Linked DNA regions of Homo sapiens: region 1 is linked to region 2. Evidence: fine-mapped expression QTL. Tissue or cell type: whole blood. Region 2 holds a variant in brackets; the other region holds the start of a gene. All regions are shown on one strand. Distances are from middle to middle.

Region 1 (5,000 bases), 20 kb after region 2:
TCTTTTCCATTCTCATAAATTATGAAGCAATTTTATGCATACTCAACACAAGCAGTGTCTTTCTCATCATTAGGATCACTTTTTCAGCCATCTTACATGTTTTCCCAGAACAGATGTCCTTCTCTTCAGTTTAAGCGAAGGGCTTGGGAGAGGACACAGCACAGTTTGAATTCACAGATGATGCAGTCCTTGGAAACTTTATCCTAAGTCACAAGTTTCCTTTGCATCACACTAGAACAGTTGGTTTTTTGCATGCACCCTGCCTGAGTATATTCATGACTTCAAAACATCACTTAATGTAATACTTTTTAAAAATTATATTTCTGTTAACTTTTTTTACTGAAATATAACATCTATATGGAAAAGGCCACAAGCCATCATAAATATTCAGCTCAATGAACTGTCAGAGTGAAACATCCCTCAGGTCCATATAACCACTCAGGTCAAGAAATAGAACATTTTCGGCAGCCCAGAAACCTCTTCCAAGTACTACTGTATTGCTTTTTAAAGCAATCTTTAAAAAGCATATTTTGAGACATCCAACACATGCGATTATGAGGTCATACTACCAGGAATAGTTACCAAAGCTGTGTTAAATTTCTTTGACTACAATACATCCAAAATAGCATTGTTGAGGACATTTCAGGTCAATGGGTCTTAGCCAAACAGTAAAAATAGTTAGCATTTATTGGACACTTACCATATAGTGCCAGGTATATAGTGCTTTATATATATTACATAATTTAATCCTTAGGCCCACTTTATAGATGAGAAAACTGAGGCAGAGACAAGTTAAGTAACTTTCCCAGTGCCACACAGCTTGTAAATAGGAGAGTCTGGACCCCGAGCCAGGGAGTCTGGCTCCAGAGTCCACAAGCTTAGTCACCATACCATACTGCCCTATCCAGTGGTTTGTTGTTCAAAATAAAGTAAATGAGAGCAAACCCTGTAATATGAGAGACCTTGTAAGGACTCAAATATAAGGTTACTCCCTCTTTCCTGAGGGATGATTTTGGAAAAACAAAAAAGCAAAAACTTCACCCTATATTCAAGCTTATACGGCATTTGCAGATGACTCCCAAATATTTATGTCCATCCCAGACCGCTCCTCTAAGTTGCAGACCTACCTACCCAACCAGCACTTCAAAGTCAGCAGCCCCAAGTCACAGTCATCATCTCCTCATACGAACCCCCTGCAGCCTCCTGCTGCTCCTTTTGTGGAGCACAGCCAGCCTCACCACCATCCATCCACCCAGCTGCCCAAGCGCCGTGGATATGATCAAGGACCCCAGTCTCTCCCTCACTCCTCTTCCAAAATCACACTCCCTTCTTCTTCAGCTGAAACTGTGTTCCTTCTCCACAGAAGTTCCTGATTTCTTTGTGCCATTTGTACACATCTCAAGTCCAGAAAACCTGTTTTTCTCACAGTCTACTCGCAGTCCTAAGGAAGAAGGACAGGAGTCAGAACTCTTCCCAGTTCCTTTAAGATTGCTTGCTCTTTGTCTCTGTCTGATTTCCCCTCTCCCCATATTCTCTCCCAAGTTGGTTTTTTGAGCCCCTTCCCACTTCCCTGCCCGGTTTCCTCCTCACTTAATTTTTCTAGGGAGTATATCGTGAGTGGGACCACCATCCCCAAAGCTCTTCTTTCCAATATCTCCCGATCTCTACCCTCAAATTTGGGATAAAGAGAAAGTGGGGGAAAGGGAGCCTGGGGGTGAAGGAGAGAAAAGAGACAGAAATCATGGGATAATGAAAAGTGACTAACAGGGGAGAAGGCCGAGGTTACGATGGAAGAAGGGGAAGAGACAGCGGGTAGTGAAAAGGGCAGGGGTGAGAAAAGGGAATGAGGAGAAGGCGTGAGGAAAAGGGGATGATGAGGTGAGGCGAAAGACACAGGGAGAAGGGGATGGGGAGAAAGGTGGGGAGAAGAGACGGGGAGAAAGGGATAGGAAGAAAAGGATAAAAGGAGAGGTGGGGAAGGAGAATCTGATGTAAAGAGGCTGGAGAGAGATCAAGCAGAAGGGGTAAGGAGAAGAGAAAGGGGAGAAGAGCTGGGGAGAAAATGATGGAGATGGGGCGAGAAGAAGAGGATGGGAGAAAGGCAGAGGGGAATGGAGATGACGGTTGGGAAAAAGAAGGGGCGAGAGGGAGACCAGGGCACTGAGGGAGAAGAGGGGAATAGGGGATGGAAAGAAGATGGAAGAGGAGGAGGTGAGCAGCAGGGAGCGGCGAGAAGGGGAAGAGACGAGAGGGCGTAGAGAACCGAATGGGAGGAGAGGACGGGAGAAGTGACGGGGAGAAGGGAAGGGAACCGGGACGGGGGCGCGGCGCGGCGCTGGGGCCGGATCCGGAGCCGGGGCCTGGGGCCGGGAAGTGGAGGGGCGGAGGGAGGCCGGGCGGGCGCCGGGGGGAAGGGGGGGCGGCGGCGCGGAGCGCGGGTGGGGGCGGGGGCGGGGGCTCCGCGGGCGGAGGGGCGGGGGCTCGGGTTACCGCGCGGAGGGCGGGGGGAGGGGAGGGGAGGGGGCGCGGGGCCGCGGCAGCGGAGCTCGCATCCTCGGCGGGGCGGCTGTGCAGGAGGCGGCGCCCGGGCGTCAGCGGACGGACCGATCGACGGCCAAGGGCGCGCGGACCGACGGCGGCTGCCCGGAGGGGATCGCGGGCCTCGGAGACAGCGACTGCGGACGATGCGCGGCCTCAGGCCCCGCGCGAGCGGGCGCTGCCCGGGGGGCTGACCGCGGCCGGACGGCGCCCCAGCACCGGGCGAGGGAGCCCGCGTCGCGCGGAGGTCAGTGCCCGCGCCCGCCCGGCCCGTCTGGCCGCGCCCGCCCTGCCCGCCGGCCTCCCCTGGGCTGCGGCAGCGGCGGCGGAGCCGGGGGCTTTGTTCTGAGCCGGAGACAATGGGGGAGGGGGGGCCTGGGCCTGCGGGACCCGGGCGGGCGTGAACGTGAGCGTGGGGGCAGGGCCTGGGGGTCTTTGTGTGCGTGTGTCATCGAGTCGGGGAGGGTGGCGGCGGGAGCGTGCGCCGGGGGTGTGGGGTGCGACAGCGTTGTGTTCCAGTGCATCGTCGGAGTGTGTCAGTGCGTGTCACTGGGAGGTTGTGTGTCCCTGGGCGTCTCTCTGGCTGTGTGTGCATGTGCGTGTCACTCTGAGGGTGTGAGGGTCAGAATGACCGTGTGTCATGGTGAGCGAGTCCCTGTGAGGGTGTGTTGCCCGCTCTGTGGGAGCCCATGTGTCAGAATGTGGAGGATGGGTGTGTGACAGAGACCAACTGAGACAGAGACAAAGAAACTGAGTGGGGAGAAGTACAGAGAAGCAGAGGAGAGGCAGGCACAGCCTGAAGTGGATGGAGGGGGGGGTCACCCAGACGTGTTCTGAGTGGGAGATTGGAGCAACTGGGAGTTTGTGTCTGGGATACCCAGCTCAGAATCCCGTGCAGGGGACAGAGCAAGGTCACCGCAGGCGTGGGTCCCACGTGGAGGGGGTGGGGAGAGGGAGGTCTAGAAGCACAATGAACTCAGTGTGGCGGGCTGGGCCCACAGCCACAAGGTCATAGGCCAGAAAAATATTGTCGCTTATGTCAACTTCTCAAATACCCATAGGGACACAGTCATAGCCCTACTCAACCCACAAGAGGACACAGTCCCAGGGAACACACATCCTCAAGAGATACCCTCACAGCCATCATACACTTCCAGGAAGCCCACCCCCAGGAAGCACCCCCAGTCAGAACCAACACACACCTACAGCAGACTCTATCAAGCCAACACACACCTACGGAAAATGCTCTCATGACAACACACACCCACAGGAGAAATGCTGCAACCAACATACTCCCACCGGTTCATTGTCAAGGCCAACACATACCATGGAAGACATTGTTACTGCTAACACTCTCCAGAAACACTGTCACCAGCAACAAACAAGTAGACCAGCACCTCTCAGGAGACATTGTCACTGCAATCCACATCCATCAGAAGCACTGTCACAACTGTCACAGCACATCTTATTAGGTTTACTTCCTTGGAGCTGCCCATACATAGTGGGTGTCCTAGAAGCCTGTCACTAACAGGAGGCTGTGCCACAGTTGCCCTTACCACACAGCCACTTGTACAACCCCCAGGAGACAGTCATGGATGGCATGCACACCACAGGAAGACCTGTCCCAACTTCTGAATAAACTCTGCTTAACTTATCAAGCTCACACCTTCACCCCTTCTCATACGTAGATCTCCCAGGTATACCCTCTTGTTCCCTGAAAACTTCGAGATCTGGATAGTGTATCCTGCCATGGTTTCTCAGTGTCCTTCAACACCACAGCTTCACAGATTCTTGACCTCCTTAGCTCCTGTTACCTTCCTCCCTCCCAGGACCACTCTGTAGAACTATTCCACCTTTAAAATTCTAAACTCTTGCATTCCTCTCTCTACCCACAACCTCCTATATCCTTCCAGCTTTCAGATGTTCTCGCTCCCATTACACTCTTTGACCTCATAATGACCTCTTGCCCTTGACCTCTTTGTTTTCTCCTACTCTGTTCCTTTCTGACTTTGTGCTTTCTTTCCAGCTCATATGCTAAGGATCATCCCTTCAACCACTCCTTGGCCACTGTGTTTCCTTGTCTTCTATACTCATCCCTCAAATTATTGCCCCTAACTAGAATGATTTCTCAACCACACCAGGGGACGCTTCTATAAATTCATACTTCTAAAAAATTCAAACCTCAACTGGGCCCTTCATAAATAAATAGATGATTTTTTTTCTATTTTCTTCACACTCATTACCCCACATCCCTCACACCATTGTTTTCAGTAGATTAATTAATCAAAACGCTAATTCATTCATTTAACAAACACATACTAGGCACCTACTCTGCTAGGCATTGTGATGAGAGTTGGCAGCACAAGTGTGAACAAAATGGACATGGTCCTTATCCTCATGGAGCTTACAGGCTGTGGAGTGAGTGTTGTAACACAGCAGCACACAGCAGAGTAACCTAGGCC
Region 2 (10,645 bases):
TAATTTAGCTGTAGCTGCCTTAGTCTGATACTCATCTACTCCCAACAGAGCTCTTTATCTCTTTTTCTCTACTATGGTTTGTTCTTCACACTATAGCCAGAAAGCTCTTATATTTTAAATGAAATATAGTAGACACTCAAAACATTTATGAAATAAAGCTACAACTCTGCTTCTGCTAAAAAATATACCCCTCTTCTGTCTTAGCATGAATATCCACCCTAGCTAGGTATCTAGGAGTCATACCTAACTTCTAGAGAAACCACTTTCCTTAAAACCACATCTTTATTTTAAATAGATGGATTGTGGCTGGGCTCCTGTAGCTTTTCCTCTTAGACCCCAGAAATATATCTCCCTTTGGGACTTCCAACAGTTCCCTACATGCTTTTTGAGCATCTGCTAGTTCCCAGCATCAATTTAGGCAGAAGGGATACAATATCCACTGTTCATCTAATAGAGACTAGAGATAAGAAACAACCTGTACCATCAATGAGCTCACAATAACAGGCCACTGCCACTACCACAGTGGCCTCAAGGGACACTGCTTCCCCTTTAATGTTTTGGTCCAAATAAAAGTACATGAATCCTAAAACATTTGCTAAAGGCTCAGGGATAACACAAGGAAAGTAACAGCATCAAGAATTTTACTGCCGGGTGCGGTGGCTCACGCCTGTAATCCCCACACTTTGGGAGGCCAAGGCAGGCAGATCATAAGGTCAGGAGATCAAGACCATCCTGGCTAACACGGTGAAACCCCGTCTCCACTAAAAATACAAAAAGTTAGCTGGGCGTGGTTGCGGGCACCTATAGTCCCAGCTACTCAGGAGGCTGAGGCAGGAGAATGGCGTGAACCTGGGAGGCGGAGCTTGCAGTGAGCTGAGATTGTGCCACTGCACTCCAGCCTGGGCAACAGAGCGAGACTCTGTCTCAAAAAAAAAGAATTTTACTAATCTGGCTTATAAATAACTTCTTCAACTAGTGGACTGCTCCCCCCAAGTCCATCTAGGCACCTCTTTAATGCGTTCCAAACCCAAGAGCACCACTCTCAAAGGTTCCCACCGTCTTGGGCGCCAGTTCTTTACAGTAAGGTAGACAAAGTAATGATCACTCCTTTCTCAAAAGGTAACAAGTTTAGGCTTTACAGTTAATACACTGTAAGCCTGATATCTTGGGGAGATGACTAGAAAAGTCAGAGATTATTTCCTTACCCTCATTGACACTGAAATTAACAAGTCATGTTTATTTCCGTAATGTTTCTCAAATCTGCAGTCAACTTGCTCCCTAGTAAGAAATCCAAGATACCTCTATCCTGGGTTACTTCAACAACCTCCTAACTTACCTCCCTCTACACTTTGGCTGTACTGACGGGAATCTGATCATCTTAATTCCCTGGTGATGATCTCCAGTTGCTTATTTCCTATGGGATCCTTATCATGACTCCCCTCCTTGTTCAGGCATCTACTCATCACTCCAACTACTTCCTTTGCCTCTAAATGCTATGCTCTAGAAGCATAAAAGTTCCTATTTTGGATGTTTCCCTGTGCACAGCTCCCCTGTCCACAACCTTTTGTTAAAGCAGTCCCTGCCGTGCAGACAGCCTTCTCTCTTTTACCTATGTAACTTACACACAAACTTTTGGTATCACCTAGGTGGCTCCCCGCCCATCCCCACAGCTAAATTCATGACTTCGTCAGCTGAGGTGCTCTATGTTTCGATAATACACTGAATTTGCCACATTGCATTACAGTTTCCTACAGTAGATTAGTTCCTGAATGGGTTGTAGTGGACAGGCCTAAACTAAGTTAAGGCAGTGAGAATCTAAGCTCTATTCTGCCTAGATGAATAAATTGGCATGTTATTCTAAGTGCCACTGGGGAACTGGCTTTAGGCAGAAGATAACACTGAGAGTGGCAGATTAGAACAACTAAAACTCTCAGTAAACTATCGCAAGAACAAAAAACCAAACACCGCATATTCTCACTCATAGGTGGGAATTGAACAATGAGATCACATGGACACAGGAAGGGGAATATCACACTCTGGGGACTGTTGTGGGGTGGGGGGAGAGGGGAGGGATAGCATTGGGAGATATACCTAATGCTAGATGACGAGTTAGTGGGTGCAGCGCACCAGCACGGCACATGTATACACATGTAACTAACCTGCACAATGTGCACATGTACCCTAAAACTTAAAGTATAAAAAAAAAAAAAAAAAAAAAAAAACAACTAAAACTACAGCACCAAGAGCTCCCAAACTGGAATCCTAGTTACGTTGGAATAATAATCTTTTTTAGTGATTATTCCCATTTGGATCTGAATTTTCTGTTAATTACTACTAAAAGTAATCTGATAATTTGTGTAACACTGAACCTTTAAACAAGTGCTTCTCAAAAATTGTGACTGTGACCTACAGGTCAAAAAACATTTTACATCAGAACAGATTATCCATAAACATAAATGATTGAAACAAAATCTTCATAAAATGTTATTTACCTTTACAAATATGATCTACCCTCATATTTTCTACTTGTTCACCTTTTATATGCTGGCCCCAATTCACTAAATTGATTTTACAACCCACTAATGGATTATAATCTACTCTTTGAAAAACACTCTTCATAGCCAGTATTCCAGTGACTAACCACCGCCTTCGCTGGATAAAAATCCAGACATTTAATGACACAAAGGTCATCTATGACCTGGTCCCGGCCACTTCTCAGCCTCCTTTCCTACCACTATTTGCAGCCACCCTT[C/G]ATGAGAAACTCCTTGTTATTCTCTGACTATATTACTACTTGGTGTATGATGTTCCCTCTACTATAATGCTTGCCCTCTTTCAAGTCCACTCCTACTTGTCATTCAAATATTTGCTCAGAAGTCACTTTTCTGAGGCCCCAAACTCCACATCACCGTCCAAATGGGCTCAGGCCTCTCTTGTGTACTGTTATTTATAATCCTGTGGGCATACACCTAACTAGTTGCCTGTCTACTTAACTGATCCCTTCATTCAGCCAAACTGCTGAAGCCAGAGATTGGGACTCATTCTTGATAACTCTATCATAAGGCCTGATACAAAATAGGTGCTCAATATATGTTCATTAAATAAGGAGGAGTAAGCTACATCCATGCCATATTCAACTCTCTGGCTGAGCTTTACAAACAATAAACATGGTACCACATGTAGAGATAGGGTTAAGCTACACTACTGAGTATACCAAGCAAAAGAAATGGTCTCCTTCCTCTTCCAGAACTTAAATGCTTATAATGATTGTCAAGAATGTGAGCATATTTCTAATTCATTTCCCACACATTTTATATTCCAATTTTCTGGAATATTTCTAACCAATCCACAGATAGAAAACACCTATAAATTTTCCAAGACTAGCCAAAAGCTGAAAGGTTGCGTTTTTTGTAAAGTGTTGACAGAATTACCCAAGCAAAACTCAGCACTATTCCAATGATCCAATTTCTTTTTTTTTTTTTTTTAGTTAACACATCCATCACCACGTATGCTGTACATTAGATCTCCAGAACTTGTTCATCTTATAACTGAAAGTTTAGACCCTTTGATCAACATCTCTATTTCCCTCATACCTCAGACCCTGGCAATGACTGTTCTACTCTGTTTCTATGAGTTCAATGTTTTTACATTTCAAATATAAATGAGCTCATACGTAATTTTCTTTCTGTGTCTAACTGACTCATTTAGCATAATGTTCTTCTGGTTTATCCACGTTGTCATGAATAGCAGGATTTCCTTTTTTATGGCTAAATACAATTCCATTGTATATAAATATACCACATTCTCTTTATCTATTTATGTGTCGACAGACACTTAGATTGTTTCTGTATCTTGGCTATTGTAAATAAGGCTGCAGTGAACATGGGAATGCAGATATCTCTCTTCAGGATCCTGATTTTGTTTCCCAGAAGTGGTATTGCTGGATCATAGGGTAGTTCTATTTTTAATTTTTTGAAGAACCTTCATACTACTGTTTCCCATAGTGGCTGTACCAATTTACATTCCCACCAAGAGTGTACAAGTGTTCCCCTTTCTCCACATCCTCACCAACACTTGTCATCCCTTATCTTTTTTTATAACAGCCATGCTAACAAGTGTAGGATGATCTCTCATTATGGTTTTGATTTACATTTCTCTGATGATTAGTGGTGCTGAACACTTTTTCATGTATTTCTTCTTTAGAAAAATATCTATTCAGATCCTTTACCTATTTTCAAATCAGATTTTTTGTGTTTTCTTGCTATTGAGTTGTGTGAGTTCCTTATATATTTTGGATATCAGCCCCTTATCAGATATGGTTTGCAAATATTTTCTCCCATTCGGTAAGTTACCTTTTCATTTTGTTGTTTCCTTTGATGTACAGAGCCTTTTAGTTTGATGTGGTACAACTTGTTTATTTTTATTTTGTTTGCCTATGCTTTTCGTGTCATATCTGAAAAATCATTGCCAAGGCCAATGTCAAGGAGCTGTTCCCCTATGTTTTCTTCTAAGAGTTTTACAGTTTCACATCTTACATTTAAGTCTTGAATCCATTCCAAATTCATTTTTATATGGTGTAATACAAAAGTCCATTTTTGTCATTTTGCATATGTCTATCCAGTTTTCCCAATACTATTTATTGAAGGGATTTTTGTTCCTCATTGTGTATTCTTGGTGCCTCATCAAAGATTAGTTGACCAGTTGGGCATGGTGGCTCGCACCTGTAACCCCAGCACCTTGAGAGGCAGGGGCAGGAGGATCACTTGAGCACAAGAGTTTGAAACCAGGCTGGGCAACATCCGGAGACCTCATCTCTACAAAAAAAAATCAAGAAAATTAGCTGAATGTGGTGGTGTGTGCTTGTAGTCCCAGCTCCTCAGGAGGCTGAGATGGGAAGATCACTTGAGCCCGGGAAGTCAGGGCTGCAGTGAGCCAAGATTGTGCCTCTGCACTCCAATCTGGGCGACACAGCAAGACCCTATTAAAAAAAAAGAAAAAAAGATCAGTTGACCACATGACCATACATGCATGGGTTTATTTCTGAGTTCTCTATCCTGTTTTATTGGTCTGTGTGTCTATGTTTAAGTTGTACATGCAAAACAGTATGGTACATAATGTTTTGATTACTGTAACTTTGAATGTAGTTTGAAATCAGCAAAGGTGATGCCTCCAGTTTTGTTCTTTATCAAGATTATTTATTCTATTTGTAGTCTTTTGTTGTCCTGTACTAATTTTAGGACTTTTTTCTACATCTATGAAAAATGCCATGGAATTTTCATAGGGATTGAATTGAATGTGTAGATCACTTTGGGTAACATGGACATTTTAATATTATTAATTCTTCCAATCCATAAACATGGGATGTATTTCCAGCTATTTGTTCTTTTTCAGTTTCTTTCATTGGCACCTCATAGTTTTCAGTGTATAGATCTTTTTTTTTTTATACTTTAAGTTTTAGGGTACATGTGCACAACATGCAGGTTTGTTACATATGTATACAAGTGTATAGATCTTTGTGTGTGTGTGTGTATGTAGATTTTTCACCTCCTTGGTTAAATTTATTCTTAAGATTTTATTCTTTTTAATGCTATTATAAACAGGACTGTTTTCTTTATTTTCTTTTGCAGTCCAGTTTTACATTGTACATTCTTCATTACAACAACGGTATAATTATATTGTTCAGCACTCATTACTAAACAGTGAACTACTTAAGAGCACAAACACGTCTAATTCACTTTTCCCACCACCCTGTAAAGAACATGAGGCAAAATAGACATCTATAAATGTCTGTTGAATGAATCAATGTGTTATACTGAGTTCTTCTGCTTAGCTCTGTCTTTTGGACTCACTGACTCCTCCCTTCTCCTGTTTCCTCCTTCTTCATCTAAAAAAGAACTTCCTGCAAAGCTGATTCCCTATTGTTCATGCCTGGGTAATATCTGTACCCTTAAGGCTTTCCTCTCTGTGCTCTTAAATGCATGGGCATAGTGTAGCTCTCCTTTAGTTTCTGGGATATAAATTTGTTAGTTATTGATGTTTTCGTTTTGTTTTCGTTTTCGTTTTTTGAGGCAATTCTCCTGCCTCAGCCTCCCAAGTAGCTGGGATTATAGGTGCCTGCTACCAGGCCTGGCTAATTTTTGTATTTTTAGTAGAGGCGGTGTTTCACCATGTTGGTCAGGCTGGTCTTAAACTCCTGATCTCAGGTGATCCACCCGCCTCGGCCTCCCAAAGTACTGGGATCACAGGCGTGAGCCACTGAGCCCAGCCTTAAATTTGGTAGTTAAATCTGAGATATCTTAATAATAGAAATGGTTTGTGTGCTTACATTTCCAGGAAAGAACTAAACTTTTCTGACATTTTTGCATTCTGTTCCACAACATATCTGTTTAATAGAAAAATAAGATTTTTAATTCTCACAAGTTAAATATTGTACATTACACACAGACACACACACACACATGAACACACACAATTTTCTATCAAAATTGATGTCTTGGGAAGACAAGCCTTGTTTACACTGTGGTTTCATATATACCTTGGTACACCACTGTGTAGCCCAGTACAGGAAGCACACCATTAAAGGGTTTTTCTGCTATTCACTTGAAAACACAAAAGGAGATGAAAACACAAAAGCTGTACCTAGGGATGTCACTGAAGACTTAATGACATTGTCCTGGCTTAATTTCTAACTACTTTTCCGTAAAATGGTTTCATAACCTTTCCTACAATTACTTCTCCTTTTATCCCAGAAGGAATAAAAAGAAAAAGAAGATAGTTCAGTTTCATATGTGCTGCATTTGAGATGCCTGGAAGCATCTGGAGCTTGAGAAAGAGGTTTTTGCTGGAAGAACAAATTTGGGAGTTGTCAGCAATTAAAGCTAAATAAATGGATAGAGTGACTCAGAGTATATATGTAGAGCAAGAGGAGGCTGAGGTCAGGCAGTAGGGAACAGACAGGATAGAGAACTTTTGAAGGAGACTGAGAATTTTTTAAGAGAGGAAAGGGAACCTGCAAAATTCATCACAGTACCCAGCTTGTGTCTTCTTTGTCATAGGAGGCACTCAATAATTAATCAGTTAACTTAGCAAGCATATTTCTCCCTCCAAAGCACTATGCTTTGAAATATTGGAATGACCCCTCAAAGGCCCAAAAGACCAGTTAGAGAGACAGATCATAAATAAGTACAACATAGTAAAACAGATACTATGAACATGGTTGCACCTGAGGCCTACTGGAGTACCAAGAAAGGAAGTGGTCCATGCAGAACTTCTCAAAATAAACAATGCTAGGGCTGAATCTTGAAGAATGATTAGGAACTCATCAAGCATTGGGGAAAGAAATTAGTTTGGAGGGCATTCCATGCAGCAAGATCTGTAGATGCATTGAATTATGAAATGGTATAGAGTGGTTGAGAAATTCCAATTAATTTGGCACAGCAGGGATTTAAGATTTGAGGAAAAAGTAAAGGAAGAGAAGCTGGAAAGCCAGGCAAGACCAGGTTACAAAGGACCCTGTAAGATATGATAAAGTGTTTGGATTTTATCCTGAAGACTAAGGGAAGCCACCAGTATTTTTAAATGGAGAAAAGAGGGATAAGATTAACATTTCAGAAAGATCATTCTTGCATCAGACTGTAAGATAGGTGAGAGGGACAAGATTAGAAGCTGATAAAAAAATAAAAATAAAAAAAAAAAGATTAGAAGCTGGTAAACCAAATAGGAAGCTAGTTAAGGAGTCTAAGTGGAGTTGGAAACCCAGATTAGGCCAAAAACAGGGAAAACCTAGAGAAGCTGACAGAACAAACAGCCATAGAAAAGGTAGAATAGGCTAGACACATTGTATGTGATTACATGAGGTGGAGGAGAAATTAAGAGTCGAGGATAACACCAGGTTTCTGTTTGGGTAGTTGGGTAGAGAAATTCTATTCACATATTCACAGAGAATGAGGATAAGTAAGAGGGGAAGTAGATCAGGAGTTACAGTGATGAACTTGGTTGTAAATATACTCGTGTTAAGGAACTGTCTTGTTAACAATTGTTCTGGAGCTCAGAGGATAGAGGTAAGCTAGCAATTCAAACTTGAGAGTCATACGCACATACATGGGAAATGGAGCAATTGGTTTAGATGAGATTTCTCAGACAGGAAATATAGGGGGAGAAAAAAAAGAGTCCTAGCATAGAGCCAACATACAAAGGCCAGAGAGAGAGAGAGAGAGAGACAGAAAGACAGAGAAAGAGAGAGTAGCCCTCTTAGGGGATTGAAAAGGAGCACTACAACTAGAACACTGCTGTCTCAAAATCCAGAGGAACAGAGTGTTGAAAATGTCAATTTGAGTCTATCTCCCCCAGTAGATTGTGAGTTATTGGGGGGCATACAATAGTTAATTTTGTATTCTCAGAACCTAACGTTGGCCAGGCTCCAGAGTATTGGTTTAAAGACTATCTTTGGCCATTGGACTTGGAAATTAGGACATTCACTATTGACCTCTGATAGAGTTGTCTCTTCAGAGGGGCAAAAGCAGAAACCATAAATACAGCTCAAGAAGTTTGGTGACCATGAAAAGGGAAGACAAGGCAGAGACACATCAGCAACTTGAAAGGGAGTCACATTTAAAAAGTCCATTTTGGGGATTTTTTTTTTTTTGCAAGGTCATTCATTTGTACAGATAGACACTTAAAGGGTATGTGTAAATTGAGGGGAAAATCCAAAATCTTGGGTTGAGAGCAAGAAGAAAGGGAGCTTTCTTCTCATTCCTTATTGTTGCTTCCATAGCTCCTCCATTTTTGTGTAAAGTCCCTTATCTTTTGGGACTCAGGACATTGGTTTTACCACTTCCTGTTAATGGTCTCGGCCTTAGCTGCTAAGGGATAAGGATCCTAGGGCATCTTTTAGCCCAACCGGCAGGAAGTCAGTTGGCAAGGTTGCAGTTTAAGCATGTCTACTTTTCAGGAGAAAGCATGCACAGTATATACTCCACAGCTAGTAAAAAAAAAAAAAAAAAAAAAAAGAATCATTAAATTCGGTCAGAGACCTAACAGGATGGGTCTAGAGAAGATTGAGAGAACATGAATTCAAAACCTGACTGAGTAGTCAATACGGAGCTGGCAGAGATAGAAGCAAATACAGGAAGGTAAAGACCTCTCTAGAGAAGTTCTGCAAACACTCGAGAACAAGATTCCCTTCCCCGTCCCACCTTTTTAATGACAGGATGGTTCATTCATGCTGGGCTAATGGAGTTTGGGGTTGGGAGAAGACAGCTCCTAATCACTCACAGATTCAGTGAAGTCTTAGTCTCAGAGTCTTGCTCACCATCCCAAGACCTGCTATCATTCCATCCATGTGCTTGCCCCATCCATGTAGTTGCTCCATCCAAGTCTCTGGCCCCACTGTTCTACATTGTCCTCACCTCCAGTAACCCATCCAACCAGCCCACTCTGTTTACCAGGCCTCTGGCCCTTTCCTGATGAGATCTGCTTTACCCCTGAAATTTTGCCCTCCAGAATCTCACTCTGTAAACCCAGCTTCTTGTCTCTGGCTCCCTCATCCCCTTACACTCAGATGTTAAACCTCTAACCTCTTGAAACTCCAGTCCTTTGGACTCTCTCTTTTACCCTTTTGTCTACCAGGCCTTTCTTCTTTTTCAACTCAGCCTGGATGTCATGAGCCAACACCACCATTCTCATGCCATGCCCTGTTGAACCCGTTGTCTTTTTCTCCCACCTACATACTAATCACCAGATTCTCTACTCCTGTGCCTTCTTCACTGAACACTCCTAGAAACAAGAAGCATCAACAACCATTGGAATTGTCACCAACAGAGCTGGGTCCTGAACACAACTCAGCAAGCTTGGGTTGTCCAATTCCATCACCTCATTGACTCCTGCAAACTCTCTCCACTTTTTTTTTTTTTTTTTTTTTTTTTTTTTTTTGAGATGCAGTCTCACTCTGTCACCCAGGCTGGAGTGCAGTGGCATGATCTCAGCTCACTACAACCTCCATCTCCCAGGTTCAAGCGATTCTCCTACCTCAGCCTCCTGAGTAGCTGGAACTACAGGCATGCACCAGCACACCTGGCTAATTTGTGTGTGTTTGTGTGTGTGTGTGTGTGTGTGTGTTTAGTAGAGACAGGGTTTTGCCACGTTGGACAGGCTGGTCTCAAACTCCTGACCTCAGATGATCCACCTACCTCGGCCTCCCAAAGTGCTGAGATTACAGGCATGAGCCACCCCGCCGAGCCTTTCTCCACTTTTCTTAAACCCTCTACTTCACCTTCACCTCTGTCAGCACTTAACCTCACTGCCTATTCTGCAAAAAAGAAAAAGGAGTCTGTAGGCAAAGTTCTCTCAATTTCCTGTCCTCGTGATCCTTATCTGTACCCACAAACTAGGCAATTAGTTGAAAGAGTATTTACTGAAGACAATTCACCCAATGACCAAGCTACCCAAAGTCCAATTCGCCAAATTTTCCAAATTTACCAACTTAGAAAAATCTGCTTTTGGACACCAATATCTAATTTAGTGAAATTATCCATTCAAAAATTTGTTTATATCAGCAATTTATAAAGTTTATGGCAATTGTGTTGCATGGAAAAGTTTAACAGCTTTATGGATTCTATTATTTAAGATTTGCAACTGATTTCAGTTTGAC

Evidence for each region. PIP is the estimated chance that this variant, and not a neighbour inherited with it, causes the effect.
Region 1: DCHS1 starts here. The variant in region 2 is fine-mapped to the expression of DCHS1 in whole blood (TOPMed, PIP above 0.99).

Annotation. Positions count from the first base shown.
Region 1 is chr11:6,653,348-6,658,347 of GRCh38, reverse strand. It overlaps DCHS1 (dachsous cadherin-related 1), which reads left to right and starts at 2,539. Exons shown (of 21, transcript NM_003737.4): 1 at 2,539-2,785.
Region 2 is chr11:6,670,304-6,680,948 of GRCh38, reverse strand. It overlaps MRPL17 (mitochondrial ribosomal protein L17), which reads left to right. Exons shown (of 3, transcript NM_022061.4): 3 at 1-564. Among named protein-coding and RNA genes, the nearest start is that of MRPL17, 7.7 kb to the left of the region's middle. RefSeq lists an enhancer at 7,113-7,162. The variant C/G (reference allele first, on the strand shown) is at 2,753.